3 linked regions of the Homo sapiens genome follow. The protein of the gene in region 1 interacts with the protein of each later gene in a pairwise test. Each region holds a gene or a part of one and is shown in the gene's direction. Other genes may lie near its edges.

Region 1 (3,824 bases):
AATCCTTACACACGAAATCTCTCACTTCACTGACTTAATTCATTATTTGCTGAATAAACAATAAACTTCCAGTCAGTAGTCAAGAGTTGGCAATCTAGCTGGTAGGACATAACATATAATCATGAAACAGCAAAAACAGTATTCAAAGATTAAATTAGCAATACCCCAAAATGTGTGTTAGAGTTAGCATAAAGAATTTCTGATGTAGTTTACCAAGAGCTAAACTAAAAAGTCCAGAATACAAAAAACAGGGATGCAATGATGTTAGTTTTTTTCACCATCCTTGAAATTCTCCCATTAACCACAGCTCTGAGTTTTCAACTGCTCTTTGTCCTTAAATCTTCAGATTCCCTCCTTTGAATGGGATAGGTAGAGCAGATTAGAAGAAATATATTCCGAGGCTCTCTAATAGTTTCTGGATGATTAACCTTCATGAAAATAACCTCACAGATAAGTAATTAGGATTTTTCAGCCCATTTCTATAAACTAAGTAAACTTTTTTTCTAGTGAACATAACTTGATATATTAGTGACTGTAGAAAGTCTTTCTACAGCAACAGGAATTATATCAAGGCTTTTGCAAATTCCTGGCAACTCCGGGCATGTTTAAGTTCTACTACTCATCTGTTCTGACTATATTTTCATCTGATGGAATAAGCAGTTCATCTCCTTTCCTAGAACTTTTAGTGCTCTACTGTCCCCCTCACTTTAGTTAAGGTCTGCCATGTCCTCCTCTCCGACAGTCCTTGACTTTCCCAATGGCATATTCATCTGCTCAAACAGATGTCACTGCAAAACAAAACAAACTTTTAACAAAAAGCAATGTTTGCATATTTGGGGCCTTTTGTATGACAATATTGCACGTTTCCTCAGAAAAATTCACGGAGATTCTTTAAGGTTGGGGGTTTAATCTATTGATATTTTCCTTAGGTAGACAAAGACAACCTCTAAGTGCGCTCAGTTAATCTTTAACCGCTACATCATCGTCACCCAGGCACTAAGACATAACTAGGGCATAATGAGTTTTATTTCCACCAGGGGCGCCTAGTAACTACCAGGTTCAACGCTCCCAGGTGGCCGACATGTGATGTGCTCTACTGTTTGGGCTGGGGATATTAGCTCAACAAACTCTGGCCACAAGGATCACGCGGATATTCTTGGGGATGCCTAGCGAAATGCGCTGTACCTAGGCCTCGAACTCTCGCCTGCTCTCCGGTGGGCGGTCTCGAACTCCAGCCTGCTCTCCGGCAGCCCACAGCAATGCGCCTGCCAAGACCTTAGGCTGCAAAACTCGCCACGGCCCAGAGCTCGCCTCCAAGTGCGCCCCGCACAGGGCAAGCTTTCGGCGAGGACTCGCGTCCCACCCATCTAGCCCTGGCCGCTGTCCCAACTCCCGCAGTTCACAGAGGCGGCGGCGGTGAGCGCAGCCGATGCCACATCCTCAGCGGCAAGCTGAAGAAACCTGTCTCCTCTCTGGGGCGACCAAACGATACGTCGATGCCGGAACCGACCCGACGCCGGAGCCGTCGGCTCCGTCCTTACCGTTGCTCTCCAGGTACACGCCCCCGTCAAAGGCGGCTCTGCGGCCCTCTCGCGAGAGAGTGCCCGTGGTACCTCCTTCCTCTCAGTTGTCTGTCTCTCCCCGCCCCCGGAGTGATTGCGCGGCTTCCTCCAGAGGGCGGGAACCTTGGACGTGGCGGGGCTGGGTCAGTCAGGGCGCTGGGCCCAGCCTCTCTGCAGGCTGGCCTTCCGCGCTGCCGTGAAGCCCCCGACAGGTCCCACGCCTGCCTAGGTAGACCGGCGCCAGCCCGAGTGACGCCTGGCGTGTGGCCGCGGGCAGGCGGCTCCGTGCGGCGGGGCGGGCGGGTGCCACACCTGTGCGGGCAAGGGCGGGGCGGGAAGGTGCGCAGGCGCGCTCGGGGCTGGTGGGCGGTGGCTCCTGGGAAGTTGCGCAGCCGAACTGGCCGGCTGGGCGCGCGCTCTTGCGGTGGCGTAATCTCTCAGCCTTTCTGTGTCTCCTTTCCTCCGCCTCAGTTTGGGGCGGGTCGGGGGAATGGCTGAGGAGATGGAGTCGTCGCTCGAGGCAAGCTTTTCGTCCAGCGGGGCAGTGTCAGGGGCCTCAGGGTTTTTGCCTCCTGCCCGCTCCCGCATCTTCAAGATAATCGTGATCGGCGACTCCAATGTGGGCAAGACATGCCTGACCTACCGCTTCTGCGCTGGCCGCTTCCCCGACCGCACCGAGGCCACGATAGGGGTGGATTTCCGAGAACGAGCGGTGGAGATTGATGGGGAGCGCATCAAGGTGAGCGGATGGGGAACTGTTGGGGAGGACAGGGTGACAGGTGTCCCAACCCCACCGTGGGCTGGTCGCTGGCCGTGTGCACGGTGTGTGTGCGCTCCATTTTTTTCTCACGCTGATGAGATTGGAGTTGGGGATTGGAAGGATTGCAATACTGCAAACTTCTAAGGCAGCGTTTCTCAGACTTCATTGTGCATGCGATTTACCTGGGGATCTTGTTTTTGAAAATGCAGGCTATGATTTAATAATCTCGCTGATGATGCAGGTGCAGCTAGTCCGTGGACCACACTTTGAGTTCAGGAGTGTAGGGCTTATCTACCGACCCATTTACTGTGTGTGTCGTGTGCTGGGAGTCAGTCAAATATGAACGGAGGAAAAACAGTGAAATTGCGCGAGAATGGAAAATTCATTTAATCAGTAATAGTTATTAAACATTCATTCGAGCAGTGCCTTAGATGTTGTGGAAGTAAAGCCTATTGCCTTTGAGGAAGTACTTAGGTATTCTCTTGCATACAGTTTTGCTGTAGTAGTTTCTTTATGATACTGATTTTAGAAAAATCTATTTTCCTGCAGAAACATTCTATATGTGATAGTTCCTACTCAGGTTGCCAAAAGCATTTCTCATGATGCCACCTCAGACACACGCCCAATTCTTTATTCCCTTTAAGTCGTTATTTTTGGTCCCTGGGACTGGGGACACTGAGTGACAGTAATAGTGGAGAAGGTAGTATAGGCCCCAGGGCAGGTTTGAAGTTCTGAGGGGTTGGAATCTAACAGTGGAATGAGGATCAATGACAAGGCTTAGGCCTCTTGATGGTATAAACCTTAGACACACCTTCATAGCAAGCCACCACTAAATGCCACCTGTTGATGCCACTCCTTAAAACATAGGTGGAACCACCTTGCCTTATACTACTGCTTTAAATCAGCGATCGTCTTTATCTCAGTCTCTTGGTGGGGATGGGGAGTGGTGGGAGAACAGGCTTGCTTTAGACGTTCCTACCCTCGTATCTTAGAGGCAAGAACAATTTATTTTTCAGTTCCCTAATCATCGCCCCCCACCCCAACGGGTTATACTGCTAATGATGGTAGAGGTGAAGTAAGCTGGGTTAAAAGAAATTAACCTTTCTTTGGTGCTTCTGTCTTTTAATTTTTCACATTAGTATTTCATGTCCCATATGAGCTCTCAGTGGTGGTTTTGGAGTTGCTTTGTATTAGGGAATTTAGAAAGATTTGTATACTTGCAGAAGAAAAGATAGAATAAAAGGCTAAACATTTTTCACCAGAATTAGGTTTGGCCCAGAAGCCTTTGGGGTGAAAAATAATGGAGCTTCTGAAGTTCCAAGGGAGTTAAGATTGGGAGAAGCAGGAATCTGGGAAGTACGTGGGCTTTGGAGCCCAACTAACCTGGATTCATATCTGAACCTACGAAAGGGTAGGGATGGGCTGCGTGTCCTTACTAGGGTGACCAACTTTGCCCAAGACTGTCCAGGTTTTAAAACTGGGTCTCACATCCCGGGGACCCC
Region 2 (3,824 bases), on another chromosome or scaffold:
GCCCATCAACCTGGACAGCTGTCTCCGTGCTTTCACCAGTGAGGAAGAGCTAGGGGAAAGTGAGATGTACTACTGTTCCAAGTGTAAGACCCACTGCTTAGCAACAAAGAAGCTGGATCTCTGGAGGCTTCCACCCTTCCTGGTATGTTACGGTCCTGCCTCTGAGAGAGCAGGAATCTAGCATAAAAGAAAGAAGACATGAACAAACAGGAGGTTTTGTTATTTTTGAGAATAAGACTTTTCCTGCAGCAGTGTTTAAAACACATTCTGTACAAGGTTTTTATGTTGAATACAGAGATGAATCTTTCTACAAATATTTGGTAGTTCCTTTTCCTAAAAAGCTCATAACCTAGAAGAAGAGATCAATCATGTAGCCCAGTAACTGCAATTCAGTGCGATGTGAGAACTGCCACAAGGGGTACAACGTGGTGAATGTGAACTTCAGGAGAGGGTGAACTTCTGGCTCTGTGGAGAGAGGAAGCTTAGGCTAGCCCTTTGTGGACTCTAGAAGAGCAACTGAGCCCGGGGGCAATACCCACTGCACATAGTCACGTGGCTGTGGCCACACTGCTGAGTTGAGCGCGTGTGCACAAGGACGCCAGTGCACTAGGGCCTGTGTAGAGGCCTTTATGAAACCATATTTTTGAAGTCTTTAAAAAATAATGAAGAGTAAATGTTCTGTTATATATTTCCAAACATTCACATGTATTTGACTTGTTTTTTCCATGTAAATTTTGTATCTTCAGAACCCTTTAATGCGATGTTTTCTACCTTTACTTCTCCAGATTATTCACCTTAAGCGATTTCAATTTGTAAATGATCAGTGGATAAAATCACAGAAAATTGTCAGATTTCTTCGGGAAAGTTTTGATCCGAGTGCTTTTTTGGTACCACGAGACCCGGCCCTCTGCCAGCATAAACCACTCACACCCCAGGGGGATGAGCTCTCCAAGCCCAGGATTCTGGCAAGAGAGGTGAAGAAAGTGGATGCGCAGAGTTCGGCTGGAAAAGAGGACATGCTCCTAAGCAAAAGCCCATCCTCACTCAGCGCTAACATCAGCAGCAGCCCAAAAGGTGAGGCCTGGGGGCCTTATGCAGTTGCTTTCTTGGGACTCCTGTAGGCTACATATGTTTCTCTGTCTTCTGTTCTGGAACATCAGGTTGGTTGGGTGGAAGGAACCTATCTGGAATCAGACCTATCTGTATTTGAGCTATGTAAGTTGTAGCAAGAGATTCAGCCTCCCTGAATCTATTTCCTCATCTGTAAAATGGAGATAATGCCAGGTTTACAGAGTTGAGAGTTTGACACATGGAGAGTAAAGCACTTCACACAGTGCCTGATGTATGGTAAACAGGAATGGTAGCTGCTGTCTTGTCCCCTTATAGTGAAAGTTCTGAGGTTCCCCATCTTTCAGGGGGTCTAGAGGATCAAAACTCCTTTTTTATTTATTTATTTTATTTTTTGTTTTTTTGAGACAGGGTCTCACTCTGTCACCCAGGCTGGAGTGCAGTGGTGCAACACAGATCACAGCTCACTGCAGCCTGGACCTCCTGGGGTCAATCAATCCTCCCACCTCAGCTTCCTGAGTAGCTGGGACTACAGGCATGCACCACTGCACCTGGCTAATTTTTGTATTTTTTGTAGAGATGGTGCTTCGCCATGTTTCCCAGGCTGGGCTCGAACTCCTGCACCCAAGTGAACCTCCTGCTTCGGCCTCCTAAAGTGCTGGGATTACAGGTGTGAGCCACTGTGCCTGGCCCAAAATGATTTTCATAAAAATACTGAGAAAATATGTGCTTTTTCACTTTTTTTCTCTCACAGATGTACAATGGTGTAAGAGAAAACATGACATGGAATAATATCGTCACTTTGACAGTGAAGTCTGTGCTAATGTATTGTACTTTTTCATTCCTCAGTTTTAATTTCTAATACAGGAAATATTGATAGATAAAATTCACATAAAAGTTCTAAAGGTTCTCAATAATTTTTAAAGGTATAAAAGGGGGTAGGGGTAAGAGGCTATAACTAAAAGGTTTAAAGCCTTGCAGGATTTTTGTGAGACACAGAGGTAACAACGGACAGCAGGAAATTCCCAGTACCATGCCTAACAATAGGAAGTACTCAGTAAATGGTGGTCACATTTTTTGTCTAATTTTACAAAGGAGAGGAATATGTATTTGGAAAACTCCTTACTCTAATAGTTGGATTTTTTTCAACTGAATCATCATAAATCATAATCATCTTTCTGCTGTTTTCTGAGTCCCTATAATGCACTTTACATTTTCAGGACATTGTTGCTTATAGGGACTTGGCATTGAAGAAGACAAAAATGTAACTTACTGGCTACACAATAGGAACCAAAGGGTAGCCAGTCATGACTCCCCTGTCTTTACCTTTGTGTGTACAGTTGCAAAGCTAACCTCGGAGTTAGCATTTGGGGCTGGCTTACTTTCTGGCATTTGGATTTGTGAATCTTTTCTTCTGTCCTGTTCACAGGTTCTCCTTCTTCATCAAGAAAAAGTGGAACCAGCTGTCCCTCCAGCAAAAACAGCAGCCCTAATAGCAGCCCACGGACTTTGGGGAGGAGCAAAGGGAGGCTCCGGCTGCCCCAGATTGGCAGCAAAAATAAGCCGTCAAGTAGTAAGAAGAACTTGGATGCCAGCAAAGAGAATGGGGCTGGGCAGATCTGTGAGCTGGCTGACGCCTTGAGCCGAGGGCATATGCGGGGGGGCAGCCAACCAGAGCTGGTCACTCCTCAGGACCATGAGGTAGCTTTGGCCAATGGATTCCTTTATGAGCATGAAGCATGTGGCAATGGCTGTGGCGATGGCTACAGCAATGGTCAGCTTGGAAACCACAGTGAAGAAGACAGCACTGATGACCAAAGAGAAGACACTCATATTAAGCCTATTTATAATCTATATGCAATTTCAGTAAGTGGTTTATTATACGGTTTTCAGAGAGTGGTCTGTGTTTTGTTCACTTGTCTTCATGTATTCATCAGCAAGTATTTTTCAGGTCCTGCTAATTTCCTAGCATTGAGCTTAGTGATAGACAAAGTTAACATTGAAATCTGGGCTCACAGATGTGGTGTGGTGGCTCACACCTGTAATCCCAGCACTTTAGAAGGCTGAGACAGGAGGATCGCTTGAGCCCAGGAGTTTGAGACCAGCTGCTTGGGCCCCGTCTCTACAAATAATTTTAAAATGGAGCGAGGTATGGTGGCATGTGCCTGTGGTCCCAGCTACTTGAAAGGCTGAGGCAGAAGGATCACCTGAGCCCAGAAGGTCAAGTCTTTAGAGAGTTGTGATCACTCGACTGCACCCCAGCCTGGGTGATAGAGCAAGCCCCTGTCTCAAAATAATAATAATAATAATAGTAATTACAATTATAAAATGATTGTTTATCCACACAAGACTTGGAGCTTATGACTTTTGTATTTTGCTTTTTGCTTATTTTGGTTTTAGAGAAAGAGGGTTCTAAAATATTTTCTCACCTATTGATCATTTACATGATCAGTGTTCTCCTGCTCAGATCTTAGTGCTATACCCTGGCCATAGTACAGTTAACTACTAACATACCTCCACTCTCTTATCTCTTACAGTGCCATTCAGGAATTCTGAGTGGGGGCCATTACATCACTTATGCCAAAAACCCAAACTGCAAGTGGTACTGTTATAATGACAGCAGCTGTGAGGTAAACATTCTCAATCTTTGAATGAAAGTTAGAATATCAACAGAACTGGGGAACATTTGTTGAAATAATGGACTATCTCTTGAATAGGAAATAGATATTTCTGTTAGAATTAATATATAGATGCTG
Region 3 (3,600 bases), on another chromosome or scaffold:
TAAATGATAACTCATGAACACAAAGAAGGGAAAAGCAAGACCAGGTGCAGTTGCTCATGCCTGTAATCCCAACACTTTGGGAGGCTGAGGAAGATAGATCACTTGAGCTGAGGAGTTCGAGACCATCCTGGCCAACATGGTGAAACCCTGTCTTAAAAAAAGAAAAAAAAAAAGAAGGGAACAACAGACACTGGAGTCTACTTGAAGGTGGAGGATGGGAGGAGGGAGAGGAGCAGAAAAGATAACCATCGGATACTGGACTTAACTGGGTGATGAAATAATCTGTACAACAAACCCCCATGACATGAGTTCACCTATGCAACCAACCTTCACATGTACCCTCAAACCTAAAATAAAAGCCTAAACAAACACACACACACACACACACACAATAGTTTAGGGAAAAAAGTAATCACAATGCCCCCACCCACACATCATAACTATTAACATTTTCATGTACTTTACTCAGTCTCTTACCTATGCATTTATTTTTCTAACTATGTATATATATCTATATATAGATATATAGATATACCTTCATATTGCTGTATTTATTGATAAACTAAAACTGGGATCATAAGTATATGTCATATATATGTAACTTTTTTTAAAAAATTAAGCACAAAAATACAAATGTTAGCTGGGTGTGGCAATGAGCGCCTGTGGTCCCAGCTACTAGGGAGGCTGAGGTGGGAGGATCACTTGAGCCTGGGAGGCAGAGGTTGCAGTGAGCTGAGATCGCGCCACTGCACTCCAGCATGAGTGACAGAGTGAGACCCTGTCTGAAAAAAATAAAAAATCTCTTCTAGCTAATAGGATATGCCTATCTAATTCCACTTGAGTCACTACTGGCCCTTACGATGACTAGGGCTCATAATCCTGGGAAATGTGAACCAAGATGGATCCAGGGATGAAGTCTGACTTTTTTTTTTTTTTTTTTGAGACGGAATCTTGGGATTACAGGCACGCGCCACCACGCCCGGCTAATTTTTGTATTTTTAGTAGATATGAGGTTTCACCATGTTAGCCAGACTGGTCTCGAACTTCTGACCGGGTGATCCGCCCGCCTTGGCCTCCCGAGTAGCTGGGACTACAGGAACATGCCACTACGTCTGCCTAAATTTTGTATTTTTAGTAGAGACGGAGTTTCACCATGTTGGTCAGGCTGGTCTCGAACTCCTGACCTCGTGATCTATCCAGCTCAGCCTCTCAAAGTGCTGGGATTACAGGCATGAGCCACCATACCCAGCCGAGGTCTGAATTTTAGTGCTTGTGTGGATATTGCTGTGGCACATAATGAAATATTTTTGAATTGTTTTCTCTCTTTTTTCACTTTAGCTTTTTGTAATGAGCTTTACCAAATTGTTTTAGGGCGGGCTGTGTGGCTCAGGCGTTATCCTAGCACTTTGGGAGGTCGAGATGGGCGGATCACCAGGTGAAGAGATCGAGACCACCCTGGCCAACATGGTGAAACCCCGTCTTTACTAAAAATACAAAAATTAGCCGGGCGGGGTGGCGCGCGCCTGTCATCCCAGCTACTCAGGAGGCTGAGGCAGGAGAATCCCTTGAACCCGGGAGGCAGAGTTTGCAGTGAGCCAAGATCACGCCACTGCACTCCAGCCTGGTGACAGAGCGAGACTCCATCTCAAAAAAAAAAAAAAAAAAACAACCCAAAAAACAAAAAAAAGTCGTAATTTGGGACTAACTAGTTTTATTAGGTTTCTGCCTACTGTTAATTGCTTCAGATTTTCTAAATTCTTTTGGTCCCCTTTGTGTTTGTGAAGGTGAATGGGCAGTAGTCAGGCGTGTTAGATCAGGCCCCACCAGCCCGGTGGAAGCAACGTTTGCGTGTGGCCGGCCGCCCCTTGAAATCCGGCCTTCGCGCTCCAGCGAAGCCCCCGGGACACGGGACCGAGGGCCCAGCACTCTGGCTCCTCACACATGTGGTCTCCTTCACGTTCCTTTCCTTCTCCTCGCGGTCCCAGCGGATGCGAGGAGGCTTAGAGACGGCGGGCTTCTCTCCCGCCCGCCGCAGGGTCCGCGGGTCCCCGCCCCGCCCGGGGCGCCGCTCCCCCTGGGGCCGCCCGGGCGCCCTCCCGCCGCCGGGGGCGCTGTGGGCTGCAGCGGGCCTGGCTGCAGATGCGGTGGTGGCCGCCGAGCGCCTGGAAGGAGCTGCTGGACAGGCCGAGGGAGCCTCCGCCCGAGACCGCGCAGCCGCCGCCGCCATGGGTAAGGCGAGCGGGCCGAAACCGAACGCTAGGCCCTCAGTCCCGGGCTGAGGGCCGCGGCCAGGCGGGGTGGACTGGGAGCTGGGGGAGACGCCGAGGCCGCCAGTCGGAACTGGGGCCCGAACCCAGGATGGGCGGGGACTGCCTGGGACTCGGGGGCTCCCGGGGTCGTCATGGCAACGCGCCCCCTCCCTTGTTCCGGCCCGTTCCCGCCCGGGTTCTGAGGCATAGTGGCCGAGGGCTCGAGGTGCCACGGCGTCCAGGAGCGAGGACAGGGCCAGGCAGGGTGTCACTCCCGGGTCGGGGAGCAGGCGGGGAGGGGCGATGACTTTTCAGGTTTGGGGGTGGCGGAGGGAAGACGCATCTCAGGTTTTGGCCTGGGTGCCTGACGCCGAGGGCGGGAGACGGGGAATGCTGACGCGCAGGAGCCTGGGTGAGCCCGCCGCGATGGTCCTGGGGGGCCCCCAGGCCTCTGGGCAGCCTTGCTGGGGGGAGGGGGCAGGAAGAGAGGCAGGGAAGGGGCTCTAGGCCCCGGCAAGGTGCGGGCACTGGCCCTGGTACTCCTTGCGCGCCTGCGGCCGGGTTTGGGGGTCGCGTACGGGCCGGAGAAGTCCTGTAGCGCAGCCGGGGCGTGGCCGCGGTGTGAACGCCCCTCGGCGTGGGAACTGCCGGTGCCCAGCACCGATCTGCCTCCCAGCAGCTGCAAAACACCCTTTGTGTGGTTGTCGCATCGCACGTTAGGAATTATGATGGGCTGTGTTAAAAATGAGAGTTGCCACGGATTATGAAACATGAAGTGGTTTCACTCCCGAAAAATAGTGGGAGTCAGACCACGATGCAGATTTGAAGGAATTCGTGTGTGGACATTTTTCCACCAGGCAGTTTGGCCATAGCAGTTGTGGCTGTTTGCATTTTAGGTTGCTTAGGATTCAGTGTCAGGCTTCATGCCTAGCTATCTAGAAATCGGAGCTGGAATACTAGATCATTGGAGACTCTGGGTTTTTTGTTGTTGTTGTTGTTCAGTGAAGGAAAAACGGGCACATTGATTACTTGTAAATTTGTCAGAGATTATGAAATGTTATACTAAGTGCTTCGTTTTTCCACACCTTAGTTTTGTCATCTGTGTTTGTTGAAGGTATTCCCACCAGTCACAACAGTGATGAGATGATGGGGAAGCGTCTGAATTTCTAAGTAAACTGAGAATAAAATTTGCGGGAAGGAGGACAATATTTTTGTGAATTGAAAATATCTTACTTGATGATACTGTGTCTTAAAAATATCAATTAAAAATCAGGCCTTTTAGAATTTGCATCTATTAACTTGGTATTCAGACTGGCGCTGTGGGCATCCTCAACTGTGTGGATGGGTGAGG

What was found.
Region 2: the proteins of RAB33B (region 1) and USP6 interact in a two-hybrid assay, tested with the Homo sapiens proteins (one study listed by BioGRID).
Region 3: the proteins of RAB33B (region 1) and RUFY2 interact in binary tests that used the Homo sapiens proteins (3 or more experiments, as listed by UniProt).

Annotation. Positions count from the first base shown.
Region 1 is NC_000004.12:139,452,144-139,455,967, forward strand, and holds the start of RAB33B (ras-related protein Rab-33B), read left to right. Parts: upstream 1-1,977; 5' UTR 1,978-2,033; coding exon of another isoform or gene 2,034-2,052; coding exon 2,053-2,301; intron 2,302-3,824. UniProt on the Homo sapiens protein: The small GTPases Rab are key regulators of intracellular membrane trafficking, from the formation of transport vesicles to their fusion with membranes.
Region 2 is NC_000017.11:5,167,982-5,171,805, forward strand, and holds part of USP6 (ubiquitin carboxyl-terminal hydrolase 6), read left to right. Parts: coding exon 1-142; intron 143-785; coding exon 786-1,074; intron 1,075-2,497; coding exon 2,498-2,934; intron 2,935-3,605; coding exon 3,606-3,698; intron 3,699-3,824. UniProt on the Homo sapiens protein: Deubiquitinase with an ATP-independent isopeptidase activity, cleaving at the C-terminus of the ubiquitin moiety. Catalyzes its own deubiquitination. In vitro, isoform 2, but not isoform 3, shows deubiquitinating activity.
Region 3 is NC_000010.11:68,405,815-68,409,414, reverse strand, and holds the start of RUFY2 (RUN and FYVE domain-containing protein 2), read left to right. Parts: upstream 1-2,137; 5' UTR 2,138-2,225; coding exon 2,226-2,229; exon of another isoform or gene 2,230-2,552; coding exon of another isoform or gene 2,553-2,661; exon of another isoform or gene 2,662-3,590; coding exon of another isoform or gene 3,591-3,594; intron 3,595-3,600.